Regions from separate parts of the Homo sapiens genome. Here region 1 is reported to be linked to region 2. Evidence: microRNA targets listed by miRTarBase, many of them from high-throughput screens and not tested one by one. Region 2 holds a microRNA gene; the other region holds the end of a gene's coding sequence.
The links. The annotated mature microRNA hsa-miR-3972 reads CUGCCAGCCCCGUUCCAGGGCA and lies in region 2 at 4,129-4,150, opposite strand. An mRNA with a match to its seed (bases 2 to 7 or 8) in the 3' UTR can be bound and repressed. Matches are read on the target gene's strand: a 7mer-m8 pairs with bases 2 to 8, a 7mer-A1 pairs with bases 2 to 7 and ends in A, and an 8mer does both.

Region 1 (9,542 bases), not on the chromosome of region 2:
TGAAGGCATGCCAATTTATCGTAGACCATATGAAAAGGGTCGCCTAATCATCGAATTTAAGGTAAGCTGTAATGTACTTTAAGAATACTTGAGAACAATTGGCTTACTAAAATCTGATAAAAAAGTAAAATTTCAGCCAGGTGCAAGTAGCTCATGCCTGTAATCCCCGCATTTTGAGAGGCTGAGGCAGGAGGATCCCTTGAGCCCTGGAGTTTTGAGAACAGCCTGGGCAACATAGTGAAACCCTGTCTCTTTAAAAAAACAAAAAAAAAAAAAAATTAAAATTTCTGAATGCCTCAGAACCTGAAACTTACATTTTTCCACAGCAAGAAATATATGGATCTGGCCACGTGCCACTGGCACACACCTATAATCCCAGTGCTTTGGGAGGCCAAGACAGGTGGATTGCTTGAGCTCAGGAGTTAAAGGCCAGCCTGGGCAACATGGCAAAACCCCATCTCTACAAAAAGTACAAAAATTAGCCAGGCATGGTGGCACACACCTGTAGTCCCAGCTACTCGGGAGGCTGAGGTGGGAGGATTGCTTGAGCCTAGGTGGTCAAGGCTGCAGTGAATCAAGATCGTGTCACTGTACTTCAACCTGGGTGACAGAATGAGACCCTGTCTCAAAAAAAGAAAAAAGAAAATTTACCTAATAACTACTTCTGTCATGTTGAGCATTCTTTGTTAACAAGTTGAGGATGGGGTTTTTTGCATCATTAATTGGATATTTAAAGATAGGTTGTGGGAAGGGTGTGTGGGACAAGTGGGTATTTTACTAATGAAAGGTTGTAACTGGCATCTTAAAGTTGAGAGGTGCTTTATAATAATTGCAGATTTCTTGGCAAAATAGTGTAATGCTTGATTTGTTAATAGGTATAAAGCAATCCAGTCATTTTCCTGAGTCTTAAATTGGCCTGTCACCATAAAAATATTAATTAAAACTTTTTTTTTTTTTTTTCCTTTTTGAGACGGGAGTCTTGTTCTGTCACCCAAGGTGGAGTGCAGTGGTGCGATCCTGGATCACTGTAACCTCCACCTCCTGGGTTCAAGCAGTTCTCCTGCCTCAGCCTCCTGAGTAGCTGGGAATACAGGTGCCCGCCACCACGCTGGGCTTTTTAGTAGAGATGGGGTTTCACCATATTGGCCAGGCTGGTCTCAAACTCTTGACCTCAGGTGATCTGCCCATCTCAGCTTCCCAAAGTGTTGGGATTTGTAATCCCAATTGTATGAGCCACCGCGCCTGGCCTAAAAACATCTTTGGTAAGGAAGAACTACCCTTTTGAGAGTAAGAATAGCTTTGTTTAAATATGTCGTAAGAAGGGTTAGGCTGTTGCAGGATGGGTTTTGGTATTAAAAAGTCAGTTTGCTGGATAGAACAATGGTTGTTAAAGTGCAGTTTTATTTAATACAATCATTTTTAATAAAGCCTGACTTCTGGTCATAATCCTTGAACTCTAGTTCAGAGTGTGCTATGCACTGTGCCTTTTTAGAGCCTGTTCTAACCTGAGATTGGCAGATTCACCTAAATATTACGTGTTTACATGTGTTTTTCTGGGGAAAATGGGTCCATGATACTCTAAGGGAGCTAATGATGAAATCAGATTGAACAGTGAAAGTTTCTTTTGAAGGTAAACTTTCCTGAGAATGGCTTTCTCTCTCCTGATAAACTGTCTTTGCTGGAAAAACTCCTACCCGAGAGGAAGGAAGTGGAAGAGACTGATGAGATGGACCAAGTAGAACTGGTGGACTTTGATCCAAATCAGGAAAGACGGCGCCACTACAATGGAGAAGCATATGAGGATGATGAACATCATCCCAGAGGTGGTGTTCAGTGTCAGACCTCTTAATGGGCCAGTGAATAACACTCACTGCTGGCATTTAATGTGCAGTAGTGAATGAGTGAAGGACTGTAATCATAATATGCTCACTACTTGCTCTTGTTTTTGTTTTAATAAACTATAGTAGTGTTTTAAAAAGTTAAATGAAGAATAAACGCAAATATAAAAGCTCTGATTTTGCCCTGTATGTATGATGACTTCAGTGTGCAAGATGAAGTTTAATACCTGTAAAAACTACAAAGAAGTTCCCCTAGCATTTCTAGGCCAAACCTTGTAATTGACTTCAGCTATGTACGTGGACAAGCTTAGACTGAAATGCTAGGTATATGTATTGGCTTCAGTGTATGACCCTTCATTGTTAAGCTATGAAAGTAAAACTCTGTATTTAACTGGCAATGAGGAAAAAAAAATTTTGTAGAGAAGTGTTGGTCTGTATAGTTCTTTATATTAAGTGGGATTCATTGTAATGCCTCTGCATTTATTCTGTTGCCTCAGCTGTTACTTGAAGATGGCGTAATATATAATTTATCCTGTGGTATCAGTGATAAAAATGATACCTTTCTGTAGGAGGGGTTTATCATAATATGCTGCTTCTTGAAGGCTTGCACTTCCAGAATTGTGTTTCCTTCTGCTGTGCCATTCATATATATATACATATATATATATAATCTTGACCAGTCCTGGTCATTTGCTCCCCTCCTTGTCTGTGGACCATGATAAGCCCAAGTAGTGACTTCAGAGCTGGGTAACAGAAATTAAAGTGAAAAGACCTTTACGTGGAGAATTTGCATGCGTAATATAGGAAGGTGTTCTTTAGGTATGTTACAGGATTACTTTAAACCATTTGACTTTCGCTCCAAAGTTATGTTGGTAGTATAGCAAATTATGATGAATAGCTTTAATTGTATGTTTAAAAGTCTCATATGTTCACATGCTTAAATCTGGGTATCAGAATTTAAGCAATTCTTGAAATGTATTGTCTCCTTAATATACTAATTACAAAGCATCTCCAATGTGTGTCACTACAGGCTTTTTTTTCCCAGATCATCAAATTTTGGCTTTTAACTAAGATACATAGCTTTATTTTAGCTAGTCTGAATGAGTGATACAAAAATACTATTGAACTATAGTTAAATAATATTAAATAGGATGGAGAGTAAAAGTGGAGGACTGGGTAATGAGCCAAGAAGAAGGGGACTTAGAAAACTGCAAACATTGGAGTGAGCATGAGAGAACAAGTTCTCATAAAGAATACAAGTTTAAAAAGGAGAAAAACTTTAAAAAATAAGGTTCCCAAACCATCAGTGTTTGTCAACTTCCTTTTAGTCTGTGCCAGCCACCCACAGCTACCCTAAAGTTGGAGATGTGAAGCAGATGTTCAGGAAAGTATAATTGATCGGTGTTCAAAAAAGTGCTTTGTGACAGATTTCACTTTTCACTGGGTTTATGTACAAATTCTAAAAATCTCTGAACCTGTATTTTAATGCATTTAAGAGCATTGTTTAGGCCAGGCATGGTGGCAGTGGCTCACACCTGTGATCCCAGCACTTTGGGAGGACAAGGCAGGCAGATCACCTGAGGTCAGGAGTTTGAGACCAGCCTGGCCAACTTGGTGAAAACGTGGTGTACTTTACTAAAAGTACAAAAATTAGCCAGGTGTGGTAGCACTCACCTGTAGTCCCAGCTACTCGGGAGGCTGAGGCAGAATTGCTCAAACCCAGTCCGGAGGTTGCAGTGAACCAAGATTGCACCATTGCGCTCCAGCCTGGGTGACAGCAAGACTCCGTCTCAAAAAAAAAAAAAAAAAAAAAAAAGCATTGTTTATAGGACGCTTAAAAATTTTTACAAATCTCACACAAGGTTTTCAGCGTTTGTCAGTCATAAGGGAAATGCACATAAAAACCAGATACCACTTCATACCTAATAGGATAGCTCTAATCCAAAAAATGGAAAATAAGAATATGGAGAAATTGGAACCCTCTGTACTTTGTTGGTGGTAATGTAAAATGTTGCAGTTGCTGTAGAAAAGTCTGGCAGCTGCTTAAAAAGCTAAACATGGAATTACCACATGACCCAGAGCTGGCCCTCCTTTTTGGGTTTCACATCCATGGATTTAGTCAACTTTGGATCAAAAACAATTGGGAAAAATTGTTTCCTGACCATGTACAGACTTCAGCTGTTAAAAGTATAACAGCTGTTTACATAGTACTTACATTGTATTAGGTATTACCAGTAACCTAGAGCTAGATGGCTAAATTACGCAGGATGTGTAGGTTATATGCAAATAACCATCTTGTTTTATATCAGGGACTTGAGTACCCTCGGATTCTGGTATCCATGGAAAGTCCTGGAACCAGTACCCCCATGGATACTGAGGGATGACTATACAAAAGGAATTAAAAACGAATGAAGGCCGGGCGCGGTGGCTCATACCTCTAATCTCAGCACTTTGGGCAGCCTAGGCGGGCTGATCACCTAAGGTCAGGAGTTGAAGACCAGCCTGGCCAACGTGGTGAAACCCCGTCTCCACTAAAAAGACAAAAATTAGCCGGGTGTGGTGGTGGGCGCCTATAATCCCAGCTACTTGGGAGGCTGAGGCAGGAGAAACGCTTGAACCCAGGAGGTGGAGGTTGCAGCGAACCAAGATTGTATCATTGTACTCCAGCCTGGGCGACAAGAGGGAGACTGTCTCAAAAAAAAAAAAAAAAAAAAAAAACTCGTATGGTCAGTGTTTACTGTGCATTCTCAACAGCCCAAAGTGGAAACCTGACTGTCCACCAACAAATGGTTAATGTGTACCTACAAATCTCTCAATTCTCAATATACATGTGTACATACACTGTGAAATACACAGCCATTAAAAGGAATACTTTTTATACTTCCCCCAAATATGAAGCACTTTACTGTTTGATACATGGATGAACCTTTAAAACATGCTAAATGAAATAAGCCAGATAAAAAAGGACAAGTATTGTATAATTTCACTTATATGAACTAAACTTAGACAAATGCATTGAGGCAGAAACAGTACCAAAGGCTGAGGGGAAGGGAAGGAGAAGTTAATTGACAATGTTACAGGGCTTCTGTTTAGGGTGATGACATTTTGGAAATACAATAGTGGTTGCGTAACATCGTAAATAATGCCACTGAATTGCACAATTGTTTAGGAAAATTTGTTACATGTTTTACAATTAAAAATCCTAAGAACACTAAAAGAAAGTCATATTAGGTCGGTTGGTGCAAAAGTAATGTGCCATTACTTTTAATGGCAAAAACCGCAATTACTTTTGCACTAACCTAATAGTTATATCCTGAAGAGGCAGAAACTGATAGGTTTGTCTGTGTAGTTTTTCAGCTTGTATTATTACTACCACTAACAGCCTCTGTTGAACCCTTCATTACTATGTAAGCAGCCATATTTAATTCTCAGAACAATGTAATGAGGGAGAGCCTATGAAAAAACAAAGCCTATGAAACAGAGCCTATGAAAAAACATTAACCAAGGTCATCATCCACAAAAATACAAGTTCCAGCACTAACTCTGCTTTCTCTGTGATGCTTCTCCTGCCCATTCATACTTGTAGGGAATAGGAGTAGAGGCCAATTATGTCGCTTGAGAGTGCTCTTGGAACAGTGGCAAATTTTCTGTACGTGAAATTAGCTTCTCAACTTTTTTGTACGTACGGTACTGGTTCTTAACCTTGGCTACCATTGGAATTACCCGGGAAACATTAAAACACTCATCAGGTCCCACCCTCCAGGGATTCTGTATAACTCGGCTGGGTGTAGCCTAAGCATCAAAATGATTATGCGCAGCCAAGGTTGAAAGCCACCAACACTGACACATGGATTTAATATTAACCACTTGGAACAGAATACCACTGTTAAAATTGCCGTGGAAGGTTAAATAATGGGCAGCCCTTGCTATTCCAAGTTTGGTTTTTTTGTTTTTTGTTTTTGAGACCAAGTCTTGCTCTGTCACCCAGGCTGGAGTGCAGTGGCACAGTCTCAGCTCACTGCAACCTCTGCCTCCCGGGTTCCAGCTATTCTCCTGCCTCAGCCTCCTAGGTAGCTGGGACTACAGGCGTGTGCCACCATGCCCGGCTAATTTTGTATCCTTAGTAGAGACAGGGTGTCACCATGTTGGCCAGGGTGGTCTTGAACTCCTGACCTCGTGATCCACCCACCTCGGCCTCCCAAAGTGCTGGGATTACAGGCTTGAGCCACCGTGCCCGGCCTATTGTAAGTTTTAAACAACCTCAGACCAGGGAACTTCCTCACTTGGACATACACTTCATAGCAATTTCTTCTCTTAAAATAGTGGAAAATGAAGCTGTAAAAGCACAGTGAATGAGAACACTAGCAAGCTATGGCAATTTGAAAAAATGTGATTTTAAGAGTCAGTCTTGCACCTTTATCATTTAAATTTGGTTATCTCAGCATGAAACTTCTGAGACTGACAGCAAGAATTAAAACACCTTTTGTATATGCGGAAACTACCCTGTAGTCTACCTGCTCTCAAATTTGAGCACGCTTGCTGGGCCCCACCACCAATTTCTGATTCTGTAGGTCTGGGATAGGACCTTAGAATGTGTCTATCACGTGACACTTGTAAGAACCACTGTTCTAGCACAAGCCAAAAGAAGTGACAGCAAAGACTGACATCCAGAATCCTCTAATTCAGTTCTCTCTACTCATCTCACTACCTGTGCTCTGCTTAGGTGAATGTGTTTGCAGCATGTGGAGGAACAATCCATGTATTCTTTGTCCCTGCCCAAACCTAAAGATTGAGGAGGAACTGACAGCAATATTGAGAGTGAGGCAAGAGAGAAAAAAAACCTAGCTTCGGAGTCACATCTGGTTTTCAATGCGAGCTTCGTGCAAGTTGGACTGAGTTAGGTGCCTCACGTCTGGAAACCTGTTTCTTCATGTGCATTTGCGCACCCTCATTACATTGTTCTGAGAATTAAATATGGCTGCTTACATAGCAAGGAAGGGCTCAACAGAGGCCGTTAGTGGTAGTAATAATACATGCTGAAAAAAAACAACTGGTGAAGAAGATACTGAATTGTACCTGAGATTTATACCATTTGCTGTTAAAAAAAAAAAAAAAAAAAAAGCCATACTACTCCCAAATACCTCCGCGCAATGTTTTCCAGTCATTAATTCAACAGCAGAATAGGGGATAGGACAAATGTCCTTATGCTCATGGAATTAATTTTAACGCCAGGTAGTTTAGCTTCTATGTTAAGTGCTAGAGAGCAGCATCCGTTAAATCTGGTGGCTGCAGCAGAGCACTTCCCTAGGAACCGACTGCACACGCCCAATTCAGAAGGAAGTGAGCACTGATTCCCGGCAGCCAACTCCCGTTCGCGCAGCCGCTGCCACCGGCCCTTAAGACGATGTGACCGCCAATTTTGTAACAGTGACGTCACCCGACGTCTGCAGGCCCTGACAGTTGGCTCTAGCGGGTGCGCAGTCTCCCTACCCCCGGTAAGGGGCTCTACCGGCCCTGGACCCAAGATGGGACTCCTACCTCCGACCACCCGGAGCAGCGGCGCCCCAGATCCGGCCGTCCGCCCTGCGCGTGCGCGGCCCGACCCCGCCGCGGTCTGGCTGTAAGGGCGCTGGAGGGGAGCTGGGCTGCCCCAGCCTTCAATGCTGGAGGGACGGCCGCGTGGGGCTTCAGAAAGGCTAGGCGCCGAGGAGTGTAAGCAGCGTGTGCCCATTTAAAGACAAAATCAGTGTGTTTTTCAGGTTTGTACGAAATGAAGTTGTAGAAAGATTAACAAGGGTTACCTGGGAAAGGCAGATTTTCAACTTAGCGTTTACATGTTCACCCAGTGCATTATTTTATTTAAAAAGAAGAAAAATATATACTTAACGGCTCCTAATCCAGCTCTCTTTGCCTGGTCTCCCAAGACACCTATCATTTTGCCCAGCACATACCTTGCCGCTGTGCCACACTGGAGTCCCCGGTTAGGTTCCCTGTGCTTAGACCGCCCCCTAGTCCCTCCAGGAAGCCTTTCCCAACCCTTTCGCGTTAACTGCCCGCCTCATCATCACAAAGGTAACTTGAGCTTTTATCAGTTTTAATTACTCCTTTTAATTTGCTCTTCTTCCCTATGTTTAGGCAGAAACGAGTCTTTTTTTAACCATATTCATCACCTGGTGCCAGCAACAGAAGTGTTCCCTAAAAATTCCTAGAATAAACCAACACGTGCTGACTAGATTCTCCATCTTCATAAACGGTGATACAAACTATGCACATCATAACTACCAGCTTCATGAGGTCAAGACTAAATCAAAAATTCTCAAGGACTTTTCTAAAAATTTTTTTAGCATAAACTGTTTCCTCTAACTTAAACTTCTCTTAAGTGAACGTGTCTTTCCACTGGGATGACTGTCTACATGCTCAGGAATCCTGAATTCATGACTATGTTCAACTCCCACGACCATTTTTAAATCATCAAAATGGCAGCAAATGTCATTACCTGGACCAAAAAGCTGCAGGTTTTGTGGCAAATGGGAAATGTGTTATAGAATATGACTGGGAAAGAGGGATTTCTTAGTGCTGCCCAGAATTAATTCAGCAAACACTGAACATTACTACGTGCCACATATAGGATCATACTGCATTTCAGGTCACCATCAAAGGTAAATTACAAGGCTGGGCGCAGTGGCTCATGCCTGTAATCCCAGCACTTTGGGAGGCCAGGGCAGGCGGATCACCTGAGGTCAGGAGTTCAAGACCAGCCTGGCCAACATGGCAAAACCCCCGCTCTACTAAAAATACAAAAATTAGCCAGGCATGCTGGCATGCGCCTGTAGTCCCAGCTACTTGGGAGGCTAAGGCAGGAGAATCGCTTGAACCTGGGAAGTGGAAGTTGCAGTTAGCTGAGATGGCACCACTGCACTCCAGCCTGGGCAACAGAGCAAGACTCCATCTCAGAAAAATAAAATAAATTTTTTAAAAAGGTAAATTACAAGACTGCAAAACTTTTTAAAAAAACCTTCCCCACTAGTTTGTACCTAATAAATGCTAACATTTAAAAGGGGGCACAAAAGGCCTGCAGAAATAAGAACTCACGTTCTTGAAAGTACTGCCTAGCATGGTATCTTCCTCATCATCAGAGGTGCTCTATACATCTTCAGTTGAAACGTGAAACAGACATCCATATGCAAAATATTTTCAAGGGTTTTGTTGGCTTTTACATGTTTTTCTTTAGATAACTGGTAATGATGCACATTACAAAGGAGACTTTTCTAAATCTCAAGTCCTTTGCTAATTTTTCTTTGGAACAACAGCACATTTTCAATGCCAAACCTTCTCCTACAACATACAAAGGGGAGATGCCAAAACTCTGAATTCTTGTAACGGATCCTGCAACTAGTTCTATCCAGAAGATGGAGACAATATTCCCTGGAGTTGACTGAACATGTGAGAAGGCACAGCTCAGAAGGAGAGGAAGGCTGAGGGCAGTGAAATGAGAACCTATGCATCACCTGGCCTTTTTACATGTTAGTCTATCCTACTATCCCAGGAATTCACTTCTGCTGTACTTGAGATTCAGGGATAATAATGTGACTCCTCCTCCCACATTCTAAGTAAATATGTTAACTAGATGAGCATTTATGTACATTTTAGAACAAAGTCTCCAGAAAGGTATAAAGTTTATTAACATCTTTAAAAAAAAAAAAA
Region 2 (9,542 bases):
AAAGAGGCTTTGCAAGCGGAGGGCAAAATGTTGCCTGAAAAGAGGAAGGAAAAAGCGGGGCATGAAGCAATGGTGGTGTGGACAGGTTCCCCACAAGGCTCTGACAATGGGCAAATTGAGTTCTTTTAGGGGATGAGGTGGGGAGGAGTGGAGAGGGGAGCTGGGTGACCTATAGCAGTGCTACTCAAACTGTGTTCCTCTAAAAGGCAGCATCAGCACCACCTGGGTGTTTGTTAGCGCGGCAGCAGTGCCTCGGGCCGTGCTTTAGACCTGCTGAATCAGGACCGCTGGGGTGGGGCCCCACCTGTCCAGGTGTTTCAAAGGCAAGCTCAAGATTTAGAAGCAGGCCAAGCACGGTGGCTTCCGCCTGTAATCCCAGCACTTTGGGAGGCCGAGGCTGGTGGATCACCGGAGGTCAGGAGCTCAAGACCAGCCTGGCCAACATGGCAAAACTCCATCTCTACTAAAAATACAGAAATTAGCCGGGCGTGGTGGTGCACGCCTGCAATCCCACAATCCCAGCTACTCAGGAGGCTGAGGCAGGAGAATCGCTTGAACCCTGGAGGCTGAGGTTGCAGTGAGTGAGATTGTGCCACTGCCCTCCAGCCTGGGCAACAGAGTGAGACTCCGTCTCAAAAAAAAAAAAAGAAAAAAAGAAAAAAAGATTTACAAGCATCAGAGGCAAAGCCCTCAAGGCTCAGTCAAAAGCCACTTCTTCCATGAAGACTTCCTGGATCTCCAGTTCTACCTCTTAGGCTGGAAGTGCTTTGTCTCACCTCCAAACTGCCACATCGCCTTATCCTACAAAATAGATCACTGGGACATGTCCTCAGAGAAGGGAAGAGTTTCCCTCTCAACCGATTAGACTGAAAGTCCCTTGAGAGCAGGGGGCATTCTTAATCATCTCTGCATCTGCCACAGGACACCCTAAATACATGTGGGATGGATGAAGAGCCACAAGCTGGGAGGAAGAGAGCAGAATGAGCATCTGGGTTCCCAGCTGATGCCATGTGCTTTGCACACGTGACCTCATGCAATCATTCATTCACTCCACAAATGTCAAGTGGACCCCTTCCCTGATGCCCCTTGGGCCAGGGCTTGGCCAGCAAGCATTCCACAGGGACCATGGTGGTCAGCCAGCTAGAAGCCCTTCTGAGGAGCACCATAGGACCCCTGATTCTCCCTGCCACCCCCACTGGCCACCACAATCCTAAATATGACTGTGACCAGACATTTTTCCTCTCTCGAGCTTAGAGGTTTGCAGCCTGATTTGGCAAAGGAGTCATGGGTAGTGCCCTCACCAAGTCAGGGAAGAAGGCCGTTGCTTTTTTCCTCTCGGTCTTGAAGAGCTGTGGGATGTCAATGATGTCACACTCTGCCAGGCCCAGCTCCCGCTTCAGCACCTCACGGTTCCAGTCGATGCAGCTCTGGGGGCAGGGGAGGGCCAGAGTTGGGGACACCTTGCCAGTGTGTTTTGGGGGCACCAAGGCATCCTGTCGCTCCCCTCACTTCTTCTGGGTCAAAAGAGGGTGTTGGGACCCCTCTGTCTGGGCCTGTTCTAACCTGAGCTTTCATGAACAGTTAGCCTCAGATGTCTGTATCCCATCCTTGCCTCCAGCCCCGCCTACTCCCAAATCACAGCCCACAGGTACACCACAGCCCTTGTACCTGCACAAACTTATTGTAGTTGATGAGGTCTTTATTGGAGAGCACCTGGTTGATGGAGATGGTCTTGACCTGCTCATCATCTGTGAAGGAGAGAGATGAAAGAGAAGGACAGGGACAGCACCAACGTGAGGACCACCTGCTTAGGGAAGCAGACAGGCAGGAGCCAAGTTCACAGCTAATGGTCTTGCCGAGTCAGCAGCCTCTGACTTTCCCAGGCCTTGGGTGGGTTCCACCTGTCTGAGCTTGCCTTGGCCACTGTGCACATCTTGGGGTATAAGGAGTGGGAGGGTCTGGTTGCCACAGTGGAATGAACTGAGACCTTTATTTGAGTTCACTGGAAGTGGTAACGCCTGTCACTGGAAATGTACAACTGCCCGAGGGCACTGGATGAGGAATCCTCTTGCTTTGGCTTAGCGGGGAGCTGGGTCAGTTGCTGCCCACCCACCCACCATCAGTCAGGTTTTATAGGTTCACTGAGCAGCGAACCAGCCAGTCCTGGGATTCAGACACCATCCAGCCCCAATCCTGCCCTTCAGGGGGTGACTGCGTGAAATGGGGACCTCCCAGGGGTCCAGATTTTCTCAGCCTGATGGTGTGCCCATGCAGATGAGACTGGACAGGGAAGCGGAGGCTAGAGTCAATGGCACACAATCCTCATGGCTGCTACTTAGTAAGCGCTTACCATGAGCAGGCCCCGAGGGGAGTGCCCAGGTTCAGCATCTCATTTAACCCTCACGGTGACCCCCACAAGGTATGCATTATGATCCCCACTTTACAGATGAGAAAACTGAGGCTCAGAGAGGTCAGAAGACTTGCCAAAGGTCACACAGGTAGGATATGTGGGGGCTTGTGATTCAAACCCAAGCCCAGGGCTCGCACAGGGCCTCAAGCCTTGACCAAGGGAAAGGAGAGGGCTCCCCTGACCCATCTGCAGGTCTAACGCCCGCTTCACCCCAGTTTAAGGCAGGAAGCTGGGGTCCAGTCCCAGCTCCACTGCAATCTTGCTGAGGCCTCTGGGCCAGTGACATCCCCTCTCTGAGCCTCACATTCTTGGGAATAAAGGTGGGTGAGAGTCATCCCATTTGATCTCTCGTGAGATCAAATGAGATAACACGTGTGATGCACACAGCGTGAGGCCTGGCGCACTGAGGTGTCTAATCAGTGCTCTGGCCTCTGTGTCTGGCCTCTGTGTCTATGTAATTAATCGCCACAGTCACTGCCTGAGTGTCAGCCCTCGAGGGTGGGGTGGCTGCTTGTGGCCTGCCATCTGTGAATTCTCCCACGCTCCCTCCCAGCTGGGCAGGTTGGAATAACTCTGCTCAACCCATTCCTGGGTCTTGCTCACCATAAGTTCTCCCAGGAAAGATGAAGGTGGCATTTCTCCCTGCCTGGTACATAATTTGGATTTAAGGATTTCTAAGACTTACTCTAGGTTCACCGGAGTCTAGTTAGGGTGCGTTTGGGAGCAACAGGGTCAAGAAAGACTATTTCTCTTCCATTTTATTGCTAAGGCTCCAGGGTTGTGTTGGAAGAAGTTAACGCTAGCAAACAGAGAGCAAGGGGACTTTGGAAATTATTATACTTGGGGGCGTCTAAGTTCTACAGGAGCTTTTTTTCTCTCTGAGCTGTGTTTGGTCTAGGATGCTATCTGCCTTCCCTGAGGCCATGGGACCAAGAAAATCTATGATCCTGCGTGTCAAAGGGTCTTTGCCCTGGGACCTCTGGGGTCACTGAGAAAGGGAGGATCCTCTGGGATTCATGCAGTCTCAGTGGGGCTGGAAAGGGAGTGAATTTGAGAACGCTTCCAGCAAGCTTGCCAGATGACTCCAGTCCAGCCAGCTCTCTCTCTCTCAAAATTCTTCCAGTGCAAAACAAAAAACAAAACAAAAAAAAGTGGGCCCTGGCCAGACACAGTAGTTCACACCTGTAATCCCATACTTTGGGAGGCCAAGACAGACAGATCACTTGAGCTCAGGAGTTCAAGACCAGCCTGGGCAACACGGTGAGACTCCATCTCTACAAAAAATACAAAAAATTAGCCAGGCGTGGTGGTGCATGCCTGTGGTCCTAGCTACTCGCAAGGCTGCGGTGGGAGACTCGCTTAAGTCTGGGAGGTCGAGGCTGCAGTGAGCTGAGATCATGTCACTGCACTCCAGCCTGGCTGATAGACCCTGTCTCAAAAAAGAAGAAAAGAAAATGCCAGCTCCTTGTTTAAAGAGCAGACAAAAGAGTACCATTAAAAGTGCTACAGTATAAAGTTGTTTCTTTGTCCCCGAGTCTCTCTCCTGACTTGTCAGGGTGGTTTTTATTTGCTATTTCACATTGCGCTTTGCCGGGGACTTGCATGGGGCTGGACAGTCCCTTGCTGGTGTCAGGGCCCACCCTGTGGGCCTCACAGCGGAGGCCTAGCTCCCAGGGGGCTGTGCTTGGGCATGCCTCTGCTATGAGACCCACATGCTGTGCCCTGGAACGGGGCTGGCAGGTCCAGTTTGGCATCTCTCATTCCCACAGGACTGCCACCCCAAGCCAAGGCAAATGGGCGACCTCCAGAGTATTGTGGCCTCTGGGTATGTGCTGGGTACCTGAGCAAGCCTGGGTGAGACACTTACCCCTCCCAAGTTGCCCACCAAATGCCCTTGCAGGGCAGGGACGACTGATGCCATGAAGATGCTGAGTGGCACATGTGCCCAACCCCAGCCCTCCCCATGCCCAGGCTCCTGCTGGGGGCAGAGTGCTGCAGCATCTCAGGACAGTGACAGAGATGGGGGAGGCCTTGCACTGAGGCTCCAGGGAGCACAGAAGTAGGCAGCAGAGAATCTGTGCCAGGGAGGCAGGGAGGCTGGGAGACAGGACTGTGCCTGAGCAGAGGCTCCAAGCCCCGTAGATGCTCCACTGATCCATCAGACCTCACAAAACAGAATTAAGATTTCAGGGCAGCCAGGTGTGGTGGCTCACGCCTGTAATCCCAGCACTTTGAGAGGCCGAGGCGGGCTGATCACCTGAGGTCAGGAGTTCGAGACCAGCCTGACCAACATGGAGAAACCCCCGTCTCTACTAAAAACACAAAATTAGCCGGGCGTGGTGGCGCATGCCTGTAATCCCAGCTACTCAGGAGGCTGAGGCAGGAGAATCGCTTGAACTTGGGAGGCGGAGGTTGCGGTGAGTGGAGATCACGCCATTGCACTCCAGCCTGGGCAACAAGAGTGAAACTCCGTCTCAAAAAGGAAAAAAAAAAAAGGGAGATTTCAGGATAGTGACTGCAGAACATTAAAGCTCCACGCCGTGACTGCACTGGTCACCTGCCTGGGAAGCCACTATGTCCCCGCTCAGTCCATGTCCACCTTCTATCACCCCGCTTCCCACCTCAGCTCGGCCCCAGCTGTGGGCAGTGGTGTCTGGTGAAGCAAGGTGTGCAGGGGCAGGAGTGAGAAGCCCTGAATTTGGGGACACACCCCTGCTTTAAAACTTGCCCTCCCCCTCTCAAGCCATGATGTGTCTTAATTTGGGTAAGGGGCAGGCAAGCCGCAAGGAGGGACACGGCACTGTTACCCACCAACAACCCCCTGGAACAGGAGGGCCCTCCCGTGGCCACACTTCTGCTTTTCCTGGAAGAGCTTGAAGCAGGCCCCAGGGCTGGCCAGGAGCATCCGGAAGCCCTGCGTGCAGAGAACAGATTCAGCTGAGCCTCCTGCCTTGGCATGGCGCCCTGGAGCTCAGTTCTTGCCCCAGATGCCAGGGAAAGACACGTCATGCACGAAGTTCTTACCTTCCCATCGGGGGCAGGGACAAAGCTCAGAAACTCATCCACATGGCCCACGGCCAACCAGTCCACAAAGAGCTCCACGGGGGGCTGCACCTTCTGGGCATGGAGGAAGTCCCGCACCACCTGGGTGACCCTGCGGCCACTTGACCTGGGACCCACGAGGTTAAAAAAAAAGTTGCTTAACTAAAAAGACTCCATGCAGAAATAAAATGACAAGAGTTTAGCATTCCTGCAATATCTGATTTTTAAAAAACAAAAAAACATGCATTACTTTTATAAACAGGAAAGTAATAAATATGTATATTTCATTTTATTTATTTATTTATTTTTGAGATGGAATCTCACTCTGTCACTCAGGCTGGAGTGCAGTGGCGTGATCTCGCCTCATTGCAACTTCCGCCTCCCAGGTTCAAGGGATTCTCCTGCCTCAGCCTCCCAAGCAACTGGGATTACAGGCGTGCACCACCAGGCCAGGCTAATTTTTCTGTATTTTTACTAGAGATGGGGTTTCACCATGTTGGCCAGGCTGGTCTCGAACTCCTGACCTCAAGTGATCTGCCCGCCTCAGCCTCACAAAGTGCTGGGATTACAGGGATGAGCCACTGCACCCAGCCAGATACGTATATTTTAAAATTCCACTTAGGGTGAGTTCTGCATGAGGCAGACTCAGGACAGGTCAGTCACACCAGGGCAATGACCTACCAGGTCCCACCATCCAGGAAAATCTTCAGAACCACCCTCACACCAGGTTCTTATTCTCCAAGAGACAGATTTCACCCCCATGTTCAATTTTTACGAAAATGTATCTAAGGGCATGGTCCAGCTTCCTCTTTCAATGGGATTATGTATTTGAGGGCAGTAGTCCCTTCCAAAGCTTGACTCTGGATTCATTCATTATTTGATCCCAAGTCTGTTCTAACAGCTTTGTTGCATTTGGTTAGCTCAATGTCTTGGTCTAGTCCACAGCAAGTAACCAATATGATAGGATTCCTTTTCCATCAGCACCCCTGTGTCACTACTGAACAACACATCATTTGTTACTCTCTCTGTATGTTATTGTCATTTCACTTAGCATGTCTTGTACCTCACTTCTCTTGCTCTCAGGAAAAGATCTTATATTAGTCATTTACATGGTAGTATGAACAAGCTTTGACCTAAATGCATTTTCTCCCAGGACTGTTGGGAATGGAAACTTTTTCTTTGTTACTTTTTTTTTTTTTTTTTTTTTTTGAGACGGAGTCTCGCTCTGTCGCCCAGGCTGGAGTGCAGTGGCATGATCTCAGCTCACTGCAAGCTCCACCTCCTGGGTTCATGCCATTCTCCTGCCTCAGCCTCCTGAGTAGCTGGGACTACAGGCGCCTGCCACCACGCCTGGCTAATTTTTTTTTTTTTTTTAGTAGAGACGGAGTTTCACCATGTTAGCCAGGATGGTCTCGATCTCCTGATCTCATGATCCGCCTGCCTTGGCCTCCCAAAGTGCTGGGATTACGGCATGAACCACCATGCCCACTCTTCTTCTGTTACTATTAATTGACTGTTACTAGTATCATCTATTTATTTTCAGAATCAGAAAACTTGAGTCTAGTTATAACTTTGCTTTCTATGTGACTCACTTACCCTCTCTGGGCCCACTTGTAAAATGAAAGTGTTGGACTGAATGATCTCTTAGGTCTCTGCTCTCTCTGGTTTCAGAGTCCCCGAGGTAAGTGTGGACTGTGTCTGGTGAACACCCACCAACCCCAGCACATCCGGGAGTATAATTTCATCATTCCTTGCTTCTGGCTCTCTTCAAGGAGTGCAATGGCCCCTGCTCCACCATCATCACCACCCCCAACCCTCAGCCTCCACCCCAGGAACTCCATTCCCTGTCTCTCTCTCACCCAGGCAGGTTGCCCCCAATGAGGATCCTCCCCAGGGGGTACTCTTTCCCATTGGCCACCACTGGAGGGCTGACCTCCAGGTTCCCAAAGGAGTCCAGGCCACTCACAGACCTGTCGCGTGGTTCCCGAGTCACGTAACCAAAATCTGGACCCTGGAGAGGGAAACCAAGTCAGGCGGGGGTGGAGGGTACCAGGAAGGGCCTGAACCAACTTGCTGGGCTTTGAGCTCCTTCAAGACAGGGTGGGAAAGGCCATCCATTCTTCAGGTGGAAATACAGAGTCATTGGCGGTGGGTGGGGGATCTGACCCAGTCAATATTTCATGCACGCATAGCAGGCAAAGTCGGGAAGTGCTCGGACTCTCTGGCCCTGCTGCCTTATCACGGCAAGACAGCAGGGGGCGCTCCGGTTGCTCCTGCACTCCCCATCGGACATGGAGCCTGAGGCCATGGCCACTCCATCCCCTTACCTACACAGCCTTCCTGCAAGTTCAGCCCAAGGGCAAGTAGCAGCTCAAGTGGCCAATTGTGGGAACCAAGAGGCTGCTGATGGCCCTCTGGGCCTCTGTCTTTGAACTCTAGAGAAGGGGAGACCTCCCCAGGGCTATCTCTCAGAAGCAACTTCGACAACATCAAGGGTCAGGAGAGAGAGCTCCTAGCATCTGTGTGATCAGTGAGGGGGTTGGAGGGGTCTCTTGTTCTTTACGGCACCAGGCAAGTCACTCTTGTTTTCTCAAGAGGTCCTCGTTAGCAATCATCACCTTCCCTGTTATCCTTTTTCTTAAAATAATGATACTAGCTAATAGTGGTGCGCGCACACACACTCCCTCCATGCAGGTACTGTGATGATGAGATGCTTCACAAACCCCTGTGAGGCCAGGGCCAAAATGTCATTTTTACTGATGAGGAAACTGAGGCTCAGAGAGCGGTAGTAACTCACGCAACATCACACAGCATGTAAGTAACGGAACAGGGTTGGTCTGACCCTAAAGCTTGTGCTCTGAACAGGTGCACCATCCTGCCTCCCCTATTTAGGGCTGCCAGATTCAGTAAATAAAAATACAGGATGCCCAATTAACTTTGAATTTTAGATAAACGACAACTTTTTTAGTGTAAGTATATCCCATGCAATATTTGGGACGTACTTACACCAAAAAGTTAACCTGTTGCTTGTCTGAAATTCACATTTGACTGGGCATCCCTGCATTTTATCTGGCAACCCTACCCTCATCCCTAAAGAGCACGGTTCCCACTGCTGCCCTCTGTACCCCACACCCCGGTGTGGCCCCTGGGGTAAGGCCTCTCAGCTCTCAGGGGTGGGCTGCGGCCGGGACCACTCACCAGGATTCTTTTGTAAGGGAAATCCTGCAGTTCCCCATTCCTTGGGGAGTCAAAGACCACCGGGAGGGTCTTGTGCGGCGCCTGAACGTAGCCCAGCTCCATCTCATCCTGCAAGTGAGGAGAGGCGAGAGACGCACAGCTGTGACAGTCAACAGCTGCCCCTGCTGGCTCGGCTCTGAGCCCTGTGGGGCAGACTGCTCACCAAGTCCCCTGGCCCAAGCATGTTTTGTGCTTGGAGGCGGACAGGACCGAGGTCAGGGTGCCTGCTGACTGGAGGAGGGGCTGGAGGCTCAAGGAGGGGGTGCACTTGTCTAAGGTCACACAGCAAGACAGAGGCCGGAGGTGAACGAGAACATGGACATGACCTTGGGGGTGTCCCTGTGAGTACTGGGCCAAGGCAGGTGGACACAGAGAAGCACTCACAGTGGCCTGAGTTGGATCCATAAATGTGCCCAGGTCAGTCCTGACCCCTCTGGTTCTGGAGGAAAAGATGGCCCAGTGTGAATGAACTTCACATCCAGGTCCTGCCCTAAACTCTTTATAAACATTAACTCCATTCATCCTCATGACATGCCTGGGCGTGGGCACCATAATTATCCCATGTGACAGATGAGGAAAATGAGGAACTAAGAGGTCTAATTATTTATCCAGTCCGGGCACGGTGGCTCACACCTATAATCCCAGCACTTTGGGAGGGTGAGGCGGGAGGATTGCTTGAGGCCAGGAGTTTGAGACAACCCTGGGCAACATGGCAAGACCCCATCTCTACAAAAAATTAGCTGAGCCTGGTGGCTGCACCTGTGGTCTCAGCTACTCGGGAGACTGAGGCAGAAGGATCACTTGAACCCAGGAGTTCCAGGCTGCCAGTGAGCTGTGATCATGCCATGGCACT

Region 1: miRTarBase lists DNAJA1 as a target of hsa-miR-3972. Seed matches in the 3' UTR shown: 7mer-m8 at 1,873-1,879 and 7mer-A1 at 2,230-2,236.

What each region holds. Positions count from the first base shown.
Region 1 is chr9:33,037,055-33,046,596 of GRCh38, forward strand. DNAJA1 (DnaJ heat shock protein family (Hsp40) member A1) reads left to right here. Exons shown (of 9, transcript NM_001539.4): 8 at 1-61; 9 at 1,631-2,853. The coding sequence ends at 1,849. SMU1 (SMU1 DNA replication regulator and spliceosomal factor) reads right to left here. Exons shown (of 12, transcript NM_018225.3): 12 at 4,711-9,542. Among named protein-coding and RNA genes, the nearest start is that of DNAJA1, 17 kb to the left of the region's middle. RefSeq lists an enhancer at 6,929-7,430 and a silencer at 7,285-7,604.
Region 2 is chr1:17,272,556-17,282,097 of GRCh38, reverse strand. MIR3972 (microRNA 3972) reads right to left here and starts at 4,209; the gene lies at 4,123-4,209. It overlaps PADI3 (peptidyl arginine deiminase 3), which reads right to left. Exons shown (of 16, transcript NM_016233.2): 10 at 8,651-8,758; 11 at 7,312-7,463; 12 at 5,435-5,579; 13 at 5,222-5,324; 14 at 1,669-1,748; 15 at 1,302-1,427. RefSeq lists an enhancer at 7,600-8,101.